Regions from separate parts of the Homo sapiens genome. Here region 2 is linked to region 1. The links come from fine-mapping of genetic effects on gene expression. A gene starts in region 1. The other region holds a variant in brackets. All regions are shown on one strand. Distances are between the middles of the regions.

What was found. PIP is the estimated chance that this variant, and not a neighbour inherited with it, causes the effect.
Region 2: its variant is fine-mapped to the expression of RPS6KA4 in whole blood (TOPMed, PIP 0.97).

What each region holds. Positions count from the first base shown.
Region 1 is chr11:64,356,342-64,361,704 of GRCh38, forward strand. It overlaps RPS6KA4 (ribosomal protein S6 kinase A4), which reads left to right and starts at 2,821. Exons shown (of 17, transcript NM_003942.3): 1 at 2,821-2,949; 2 at 3,037-3,108; 3 at 3,822-4,040; 4 at 4,136-4,251; 5 at 4,793-4,900; 6 at 5,128-5,208; 7 at 5,301-5,363. The coding sequence starts at 2,895. It overlaps CCDC88B (coiled-coil domain containing 88B), which reads left to right. Exons shown (of 27, transcript NM_032251.6): 27 at 698-1,193. The coding sequence ends at 753. RefSeq lists a silencer at 2,607-3,096 and enhancers at 2,846-3,373, 4,107-4,216.
Region 2 is chr11:64,388,163-64,393,525 of GRCh38, forward strand. It overlaps LOC124902688 (a long non-coding RNA gene), which reads left to right. Exons shown (of 2, transcript XR_007062718.1): 2 at 1,964-2,151. Among named protein-coding and RNA genes, the nearest start is that of LINC02723, 5.0 kb to the right of the region's middle. The variant G/A (reference allele first, on the strand shown) is at 3,072.

The sequences.
Region 1 (5,363 bases):
GCAGGCAGATCACTTGAGGCCAGAAGTTAGAGACCAGCCTAGCCAAAATGGTGAAATCCCGTCTCTACTAAAACTACAAAAATTAGCCAGGCATGGTGTCCCATGCCTGTAATCCCACCTACTCAGGGGGCTGAGGCAGGAGAATCGCTTGAACCTGGGAGGCAGAGGGTGCAGTGAGCCAAGATCACGCCATTGCACTCCAGCGTTGGTGACAGAGTGAGACTGTCTCAAAAACAAAAAACAAAAAACAAAAAAACATAGTAGGTCTTTGAAGCACGTCACAGGCCAACCCCATCTCACCTACTTAGCTCCGCCCTGGGCAGCTCAGCCCTAGACCCGGCTGGACCATCAGGAGGCGCTAATGCTCTGGGAAGAAAGGAGAGCAGGGGAGGGGTCAGGAGCTCAGGAGCTCTGGGCAGGCTGGTTGGAGTTTTAGTAACTGGGGTGCTGGGGTGGGCCTCAGAGAGGATGTGAAATTGGAGCAAAGACTTGGAGGGGAGAGTTTGTCGTGTGGACATACCTGAGAACAGCATTCTGGGCAGAGGGAACCGCTGAGGGAACAGCAGGCGTGGTGCAGCTGGAAGCGGGGGGTATTGGCAGGTCGGGGGTGGGCAGAAGGTGCTCGAGCCTGTGGGCCTCCTGGGACTCTGGGAGTCCTCCTGAGGGAAGCAGATCTCAGCTGAGCCTTTCCCTCTAGGCCCTGAGGTACAGGAACCGGAGAAACGTCCCCTCACCCCATCCCTCAGCCAGTGACACCGTGGGAACAGCAGGCTTGGGAGTGCAGCCTTCTCGGCACTGGAGTGTCAGCGGAGGCCCCAGGCAGCCCAAGAGCTCAGGGAGCCAGGGACCCCAAGGGGAGTCCTTGGACAAGGAGGCCTGGGCCCTGAGATCCTCCACGGTCAGCGCCGGGGCCCGGAGATGGAGCTGGGACGAGTGTGTGGACAGGGGGGATGGCTGGCCCCCACGAGCAGCTCCAGGCTGGAGTTCTGGTTCTTCCAGGTGGCTCCCGCTGAGGCAGCGGTCTCTGGGGGATCCCCCAGCTGAAGGAGGCTGGCAGGAGTTGGCAAGAGAACCCCCTGCCCTGTCCAGGTGGGAAGCTGAGTCCCAGTGCTGGGGGACTGTGGCCTGGGCTGATCTTGAGCCTTAACTGGACATGAGGGGCATGAGAATAAAGCTGAACTGCAGCCTCCTGAGTCTTGCTCTGTCTGTTGGCCGCACTGGGTACCTCAGGGCACCAGGACACATGCCGCCCCAGTCCTGCTGGTTGGTGGGGGTCTGTGGGCAGAGGGCCCCTGCCTGGACAGGGCAGCACAGGCCTTTCTCCAGGGTCTTGGCCAGTCCGGCCGGCCAAAGCCCGGATGTCCTGGTGAGGTGGAGAGGGGATGACATCCTGGGTAGCCAGCAGGGATTGGGGTCTAAGATCTGGGCTCAGGGGTGTGGGGCAGTGAAGCCCCTGTTGCCCCGCCCCCACCCTCTCCCAGGGCACTGTCTTCTCTCTGTTCACATCCTCCTCCTACTCATCTCCCCTCCCTCCTTGAGGTTGAGCCCCCTCCCCAGGGAGTTCTCAGCCTGGCGGGGCATCACTTAATGCCAGGGGTTGCCAGGAGAGGTGGGAGGGACGCTGGCTCTCTGACCAGGGCCTCTAGCCTGATGCCTGAGAGGCGGGGCAATTCGGCTGGGGTGCAGGATGTGAGTCAGGGTACCTGGGGCCACCCAGGGGAGGGTGGAGCTGCCCAGGGCTGAGATAAGGCAGCCTGAACTTGGGGGGTGCAGAGCTGGGAGGGACGGTCCGTCCGGCCTCCCAGGTGTGACCTGCAGCAGCTTGAGTTCCTCCTCCTCTCAGCCAGGGCTTCACAGGACAGGGGCGTGGGGTGGACACCCTGGCCTCTCCAGCTGGCAGAGGAGCTGAGAGCCCCTCCCACCGGCCTCAGGGTGTGGGGCCTCATGGCTGTCCCACTCTGCTAGGTGGCCCCATTGGTGGTCAGGAAGGGAAAGGCAGGAAGAAGACGGAGCAGGGGCTCAGGAGGACCAGTCAGCAGGGGCCCTGGGCCTCATGGGGAGAGGGGGCAGCCCCGTGTGGCACTGACATCTCTTCTTGAGGCCTGCTCAGGGCTCTAAGCTGGGTACTGCACCAGGCTAGGAGACAACAGGAGCAGAACACGTGAGGTGCGCATGGCACCTGGTGGGCTCTGCACGGTGACTGGGGGCTGAAGTGCTTCTGCAGGCACCCCCGACAGAAAGCTGGTCAGAAAACTGGCCACTCCTCTCCTTGCCATGGGGTCCCAGGCCGGGCTCCAGCCCCCTCTTGGTGATGAGGCTCCTCCTTGCAAAGGCCAGTCCTCTGGGGAGAGGGGCCCTGCTGGCCACCCCCAGGACGATGGAGTGGGGTGGGCTCCACTGCCTGAGAGTTGGGTGACTTCCAGGATCCAGACCCCCTCTCAGCCTGCCCAGCACCAGGCACCTCGTCCCCCACCTTGGGGCACAGACTCCTAATGTCCTCCAGCCACTGGCTGCAGCCGGCATTCCCGGGCAGATTCCTGGCTTGGGGACTAATGCCCCAGAGGCTCCAGGTTACCCACGGGCTCAGGGATGGCTCCCACGGGGTGTTTCCAGTTCCCGGGAGAGTCGAGTAAGGTCCCGGAGCGCACGGCCCTGAGGCCTGGCCTGGGGGCTCGGGAGACAGGGCGGCCCCAGCCGGCCGCCCACCGGCAGCCCGGCGCTGTCACGTTCCAGCCGCCTGACTCAGGCCGCGCAGGGCGGGGAGCCGGGAGGCGGTGCCGGCGCCCGCCTCGGCCCCGGAGGCGGCACCAGGAAGCGCCCGCCCCGGCCGGAGCCGCCATGTAACCGGCGCCGCCCGGAGCCCGAGCCGCGCGGGCCCCAGCGACCCGCCCGCCATGGGGGACGAGGACGACGATGAGAGCTGCGCCGTGGAGCTGCGGATCACAGAAGGTGGGTGTGGGGCCTGACTGCGGCTGCCCGGGGCAGGCCGGGACGGGTCATGGACCGGCTGGGCTCATTCGCCCCCTGTGCCCACAGCCAACCTGACCGGGCACGAGGAGAAGGTGAGCGTGGAGAACTTCGAGCTGCTCAAGGTGCTGGGCACGGGAGGTGAGGACCCCCATCCACCGGGCAGGCGTCCCAGGCGCGGTGCCCCTGACCTCCTGCCTGCTCACTCTTGGGCCTGGGCCAGGCCACTGAGCAGGCCCCCCACCCTTTCCCGGCACAGCCTGCCTTGCCTGCCCCGCCCTGCCTCGCCAGAGTTTGCATGCCCACTTCCAGGGCACTCCACATTGACATCACTCCTCCCTCCACGGTCCTGTGCGTGCATACCCCCCTGGATTTGCCAACACCCTGGGGAGGGGGACTGGCGCCCCTCTCAAGTGATTTGCATAGCTCCTCCCTTTCTTCCAATATGGGATCCCCCTCCCACATTTTGCAAATGCCCCAGCGCTGGTTTGCGCATCCCTTCCCCAGCCAGGTGCACACCTCTGCCTCCCTTCCTTGCACTGGCATCTTTTCACATCCATCTGATCTCTCGCAGGTTTGCATATGCCCCGCCCCCATGCCTCGCAGCAGGCCCCCTGGAGATGCATGCTCCCCAGCCTGGTTTGCACATCCTTTCCCTGGTTTTGCTGGGCACCCTCCCGGGGTGTGCACACCCTTTCCTTAGAAGGCTCTGCCAGCTTTTTGCACACCTGCCTGTTGCCCCAGCTCCTTCGCCTCATTTGCACACCCTCCTGGGTTGGCATCGCCCCCACCCCCCAAGCCTGCACCAATCTCCCGCTCACAGCCCACCCTCCACCCACTCGCTGCTCCCACAGCCTACGGCAAGGTGTTCCTGGTGCGGAAGGCGGGCGGGCACGACGCGGGGAAGCTGTACGCCATGAAGGTGCTGCGCAAGGCGGCGCTGGTGCAGCGCGCCAAGACGCAAGAGCACACGCGCACCGAGCGCTCGGTGCTGGAGCTGGTGCGCCAGGCGCCCTTCCTGGTCACGCTGCACTACGCTTTCCAGACGGATGCCAAGCTGCACCTCATCCTGGGTGAGCGCACACCACATCCCAACGGGGTTGGGGTGGCTGGGGGCAGGCGAGGCCACCTGACGGGGCTGCTTCCTGACTTCCACTGCACCTCCCAGACTATGTGAGCGGCGGGGAGATGTTCACCCACCTCTACCAGCGCCAGTACTTCAAGGAGGCTGAGGTGCGCGTGTATGGGGGTGAGATCGTGCTGGCCCTGGAACACCTGCACAAGGTGGGTGAAGACCTGGCCGCAGGCTGTTGCTATGGAAACTGGGTCTGTGCCTTGGAAGGAATCTGCACGCAGGGCAGCCTCAGGCTTCCCCCTGGGCTTCCTGGGGGGCCAGTGGTGAGCTGGGTGGGAATTGGAGCTGCTTCCCCTGGACCCCTTGCAGGAAGCCTCAACGTTGCCTGGTGGGGTCCCCTCCCCTGGCACCTCCTCGAAGGGGCTTTCCTCTTTCAGGGAACTCGGGGCTGCGTTCACAGAACTTCCTCAAATGGAAACCTCACGGCCTGGCTCCTAAGGCCTCCTTGAAATGGAGCTCTTCACACAGACTTTCCTCTCTCTGGGACCTTGGGGCCTGATCCACGGGGCCCTCCTTCTTTGTTTTATATCTTAAATGGCCTTTCTTATTCAGTGGCTCTGCCCTGGAGACCCCCTCTACAGGCAGATGACTTTCTCTGGGGGGTCTCCTTATCCTGAGCAGGGCCAGGAGCTGGAGGAGCTGGGGAGGGTTTCGGGGAGGAAGCCTCAGCACCCCTCTTGCTCCTACCAGCTCGGCATCATTTACCGAGACCTGAAACTGGAGAATGTGCTGCTGGACTCCGAGGGCCACATTGTCCTCACGGACTTCGGGCTGAGCAAGGAGTTCCTGACGGAGGAGGTGAGTGGAGGCCACCTCTGCCTGCAGTGCCCCATTCAATCCTTCTCCTTCCTGCCTCTTCCTGCTCTGGGCCTGCATTCTGGGGCTGCAGAAGTGAATAGCTCCAAGAAGTTTCCACAGCTCAGCTCTCCAACCTCACAAGTTGAGCGAGTCTTACTCTGGGCCTTGTGGGGCACTGGGGCACAGGAGAGGTTTCGACATCTAAGCAGGACCTCTTGCCCTCCCAGAAAGAGCGGACCTTCTCCTTCTGTGGCACCATCGAGTACATGGCCCCCGAAATCATCCGTAGCAAGACGGGGCATGGCAAGGTAGGTTGGCAGGGAAGTGGGGCTGGGGGAGGTGGAAAGGTGGGGTGTGAGGCAGGGGAGATGCAGGCCCTCACCCCGGCTCCACCCGGCAGGCTGTGGACTGGTGGAGCCTGGGCATCTTGCTCTTCGAGCTGCTGACGGGGGCCTCGCCCTTC
Region 2 (5,363 bases), 32 kb after region 1:
TCATGTTAATGATGGCAGAGAGCAAGATAGAATGAGCCTGGGTCACTGATGGCTGTGGACCTGCTGTATCAACCCTGGGCTGGCTAACTCTAGACTTCTTTTCACATGAGAGCAAAATTTAACCTCTCCCTTATTATAGCCACTGTTATTTTGATTCTCTGTAGCTTGTAGCCAGGTGCAATTCTTAACCGATAGCAAAGCTTTTGAGCACACCTGATGCCTCACTTCCCATCTCTATTCATGAATAAAGGGAAGTTTGACATGGATATAGCAGGGTGTCCCTGAGGCATCTGTACTGGGAACAGAGCCTGCTTTTTGTGGGCCTGGGGGCCTTGTGTTGGCTTGGTCCTGTTTGCAGGAACGGGCATGCCCGCTGGTTTTATCTCTCAGAACTGGAGGAGGAGAATGAAGTCGTTTGGTGCAGAGGTGCCCTGGGAGGGGAAGGGGCAGCAAGAATGGTGGAGGTGGATGCTGCGAAGTGACGGCTGGGCTGGGGCCTGGGGATCTGTTTCTGGGAGTGGTAGCAAACTTCTGGGCTCAGGCAGTGTCCCTTCTGGCCTGGGTGACAAAGAACAGTGCAGCTATGGGACAGCACAAAGTCGTGTGTTTCTGCCCCAACCCTAGCCTAACCTTGACTCTCTAGGACTGGCAGCCTGGGAACACTGGAGGCCAGCAGAAGCAGGGGATGCAGAGAGGATGGGGCCAGGTGGAAGCCAGGTGTGGGCTTGGACCTGAGCATGTGGGAGACACTCAACATGCCCTGGAATCCCCAGGGGTGGCAGGTGCTGAGGTGGGCTGTGCTCTGTGGGTGTGCAGCCGGGCACTAAGAATCTTGGTAATTTAGCTGGAGAGCTTGTTTGTGCCCCGGGTAGCCGAGCTGGACATGCAGGTTGCAGAGGGAGTTGGAAGCTGATGGACTTAATGAACATCGTAAATCCCACGGCACTCCCGCATCGTGCCTCCCTGTTGCCTGGTGGAGACTTACCTCTTCAGAAAGCTGGTTTCAGCAATCGCTCCATAAACATCCTTGAAGTTCATGGCCCTCTTTGCTGTCTCGGAGCTCACGCTGCACTTTCTCAGTCTGTTCCATGTTTGCTGATTGAATCAGCAATTCAGCCATTTGGATTAAAAGGCATACACAATTTTTTTTTTTTGAAAGCAAAAACATCTTCTGTTGAAGCAGCTCTGCCTGACCTACCATTTGCCAAAGGAGATGTTCTCAGAAACGTGTTGTTGCCAATGCTCAGAATAAAGATCTGAAAGCCTGTAGCAAGGATCAGAAGCCTCATGGCCAACATCTCTGCATTTATAAAGCATGATTTCTCCTGTGAGTTTGGTGAGGAGATATTTTAACCCTCATTTTGCAGATGGAGAAGGTACGGGGAGGTCTTGCATGTGATGATGAGGCCAGTCATTGGTGGAGACTCCAGGTGTCTTTTTATGTCATCTCACCATCCCTTAGACTGTTAGCTTCAAGGGAAGATGGGCTCATTATTAGCCCAAATATTGACTTACATAGAATAAAAGTGGTAGCTGATATTTGAGCATGGACTCTGAGCCTGGCCCAGGACCAAGTGGCTTTGATCTGTGATTTTGTGTAGTGTGTGTAGCTTACCCAGCTCCTGTTCCTCCCACTTGTGCTTTCTGGTCCCTCCAAGCTTGCTCTAGGTCAGTTGCTGGAATGCACGGGATGCTGGGATAGATGCTCACCCATTTCTGCTGGTCACAGATGAGGAAGCACCTAGCCCTAATGGCAGCTGGCAGCCAGCCTGTCACCCCAAGGACACCATACCTCAGGGTCCAGCTGAGGCTATGGATGACAGAGGAGAGAGGGAAGAGGTCAAGTCCTGAGGACACAGCTGAGCTGCTGGATCGAACCAACCCTGAAGTCCACCCTACTGCTGAACTGTCCTTTAGCCAGGCTGCATCTCCATTTATCATTTTATTTCTTGGCACCTTCCAGAGCCAAGAGAGAGAATCTTCATGTCCAAGGGTCAGCATGCAGCTCATAGAGGGGCCGGAAATCACAGCTGTGTCTGTGCTACTTCTTCCCATCTTCAGGTGCCATGAGTGAATCAGGAAAAGATATTGGTACTGTATTAGTCTGTTCTCATACTGTTAATAAAGACATACCTGAGACTCTGTAATTTACAAAGGAAAAAGGTTTAATTGACTCACAGTTCCCAGAGCTGGGGAGGCCTCAGGAAACTTACAATAATGAGAGAAGGGAAAGCAAACACGTCCTTCTTCACAGGGCAGCAGGAGAGAGAAGAATGAGCAAAGATGGAAAGCCCCTTATAGAACCATCAAATCTCATGAGAACTCACTCACTATTATGAGAATAGCATGGGGGTAACCACCACCATGATTCAATTACCTCCCACCAGGTCCCTCCCACTACATGTGGGGATTATGGAAACTACAATTCAAGATGAGATTTGGGTGGGGACACAGCCAAAACATATCAGGGACTAAGGATACCAAGTCACGGGAGTCATCAGCTCAGTTCAATGGTGTGTCAATTAACAAAGTGTTCTGCAGTAAGAAATCACCCCATCTGGGTGATATGTGTAACTGGCAGAGGAAGTTGGCTCAGTGATGGGGAGCTTCTAAAGAAGCCTGGCCTGGCTGTGGTGTGGGATGTGGACACTGGCCCAACAGAGGGGCCTGTGGCTCCAGCAGAGGGGACATGCAGGTAGCCGATGGCCCAGAGCAGGGCTGTACTCCTTCCACCACACACCACCATTCTTCAGGTGCGGTGACAAGGCAGGGGAAGCTGCTGGGATCTCTTGGGACTTCCAAGGGGCTGAGGTTGTTCATTTACCAGACTTCAGTGGTTACTACAGAGGGCTGTCCTGTGGCCCACAGGGGGCAGGGCAAGAATGAGAGTGGACTTGGGGCCGGGTGTGGTGGCTCACACCTGTAATCCCAACATTTAGGGAGGCCGAGGCAGGTGGATGAATTGAGGTCAGGAGTTCGAGAGCAGCCTGGCCAACATGGTGAAACCCCATCTCTACTAAAAAAATACAAAGATTTAGTGGTGGCCCGCGCCTGTAGTCCCAGCTACTTGG[G/A]AGGCTGAGGCAGGAAAACCACATGAGCCCAGTGGGTGGAGGTTGCGGTGAGCTGCGATTGCACCACTGCACTCCAGCCTGGGGGGCAGAGCAAGACTCTGTCTCAAAAAAAAAAAAAAAAAAAAAAAAAAAGAAAAGAAAAGAAAACAAAAAGAGAGTGGACTTGGCCCAGAGGTGGGTGACGGTCAGTAGCCACCTGTGGAGCCTGGGGCTCTGTGCCACGGTGGCCTCTCTGGAGATAAGGTGGCGGGTGCCAAAGGGAGGGACCCTCAGGGAGGAGGCAGTGACTTGGCCAGTTCACACTCCAAGTCTGTATTTTGGCTCAGCTGGCCCAGAAGTTCCTTGGCACCCCTTTCCCCAGAGGGAGACGTGTGCAATGTGTGCAGAGCCCCGCAAGGGGAGGACAGGTTGGCTCCCCACTGCCCCCAGCAGAGGGTGGGAGTGAGACTTAAGAGATGGGACCTCAGTTTCTCAGTGGCAGGTAGTGGGGTGCTGCCCACAGCAGCATTTGCAAGCTATGTTCCTTGGAGCTCAAGGAGGTTGGAAGTTTATGATAGATGCTCAGCAAAAATGTTGTCATCAGCCGTGTACTGTGCTGCCTCTTGGAAAGTCATCAAGGGCCTCAGCGCATTAAATGCTCTGAGGAGTCCTGCATTGTTATATGTGTTTAATTCAAGGCTCCCCATGGCACACCCAGCAATGCCTGTGGAGCACTGGGGTTCCCTGGAATGTAGTTTGGAAACTGTTCTGGATCTGGCTTGCTCTGAGCCTGGACATTGTCTTGGGAACAGGCCAGGCTTGTCATGGCAGGTGGTTTATGAACAGAAAGCTGCCTCATTAATTTGCAGGGAGGTCATCTTCCCTTGCACCCATCATCCCAGATCACTCAGCTCTGGGCAGGCCCCTTGCTCTCTCCCCACAAGCCAGGGAGCTCAGCCTGTTTTTTTTTTTTTTTTCCTTGAGACGGAGTCTCGTTCTATTGCCCAGGCTCTGGAGAGTGCAGTGCTGTGATCTCCCCTCACTGCAACCTCCGCCTCCCAGGTTCAAGCGATTCTCCTGCCTCAGCCTCCCAAATAGCTGGGATTACAGGCACCTGCTACCACGCCCAGCTAATTTTTGTATTTTTAGTAGAGACGGGGTTTCTCCATGTTGGTCAGGCTGGTCTTGAACTCCCGACCTCAGGTGATCTGCCTGCCTCGGCCTCCCAAAGTGCTGGGATTACAGGCATGAGCCACCGCGCCCGGCCACTCAGCCTGTCCTTCTAAGGCAGTTGCTACAGCTTTGTCTTTTAGGGTTTTTTTCTAGGAGGGAGAATGGTCCCAGGACTCCCTCCTGTGTGACTCTTGCAGGTCACTGCATGCTGGGAAGGGGAGGAGGGTCCTGATCTCAGGTAGATCTAGGACATTCCATTCCCGGGCTGGTTCCTGATTTCCCTTCTGGGGTTGTTCCCCAGGCCTCTGTAGCGGGGGGCCCTGTTGGGGCTGGGGGAGCTCAATCTCTGCAGCGGACTTTGGGTCAATCCTTTCCTGGTTCTGTTTCTGTTTCCAAAGAGCCATGCATTCACTCACAACGAGAACTTTCTCTACATGTAAGGCTGGAGCTGGGCCCAGGGATAGAGAAGTGGACAAGATGAAGCTTTGTCCCTGCCCTCAGTGGGTGCTCATGTGGTGTGGGGACAAAGACCTTAGCTGATGAGGCCGCGAGGGAGGTGGTTCCAGGGAGCACATGAGAGGGAGGCACTTAACTTTATCCATGGGGGCTGGAAGGGATTCAGGAGGTACCAGGAAGGCTGGAGAACCACAGAAACAGGGTGCAGCTCCCAGAACCCGAGGCAAAGTCAGGCCACGGGAGCGATCGGCCGCTGCCACCATTGAACACTGGGTGCCACGCCTGGCCCCACTGCAGCCTCTGGCTCTGTGCCCCAAAAGCCACCTACTGTCCCTGAAGTTGGACACTGTGGCCAGAATGGACGGACTTGACACTGTCCCTAATTCTTTTTTTTTTTTTTTTTTTTGAGACAGAGTCTCTCTCTGCCGCCCAGGCTGGAGCGCAGTGGCCTGATCTCGGCTCACTGCAACCTCCACCTCCTGGGTTCAAGTCATTCTCCTGCCTCAGCCTCCCCAGTAGTTGGGATTACAGGCATGCGCCATCACGCCTGGCTAATTTTTATATTTTTAGTAGAGATGGGGTTTCACCGTGTTGGTCAGGCTGTTCTCGAACTCCTGACCTCAGGTGATCCACCTGCCTTGGCCTCCCAAAGTGCTGGGATTACAGGCATGAGCCACCGCGTCT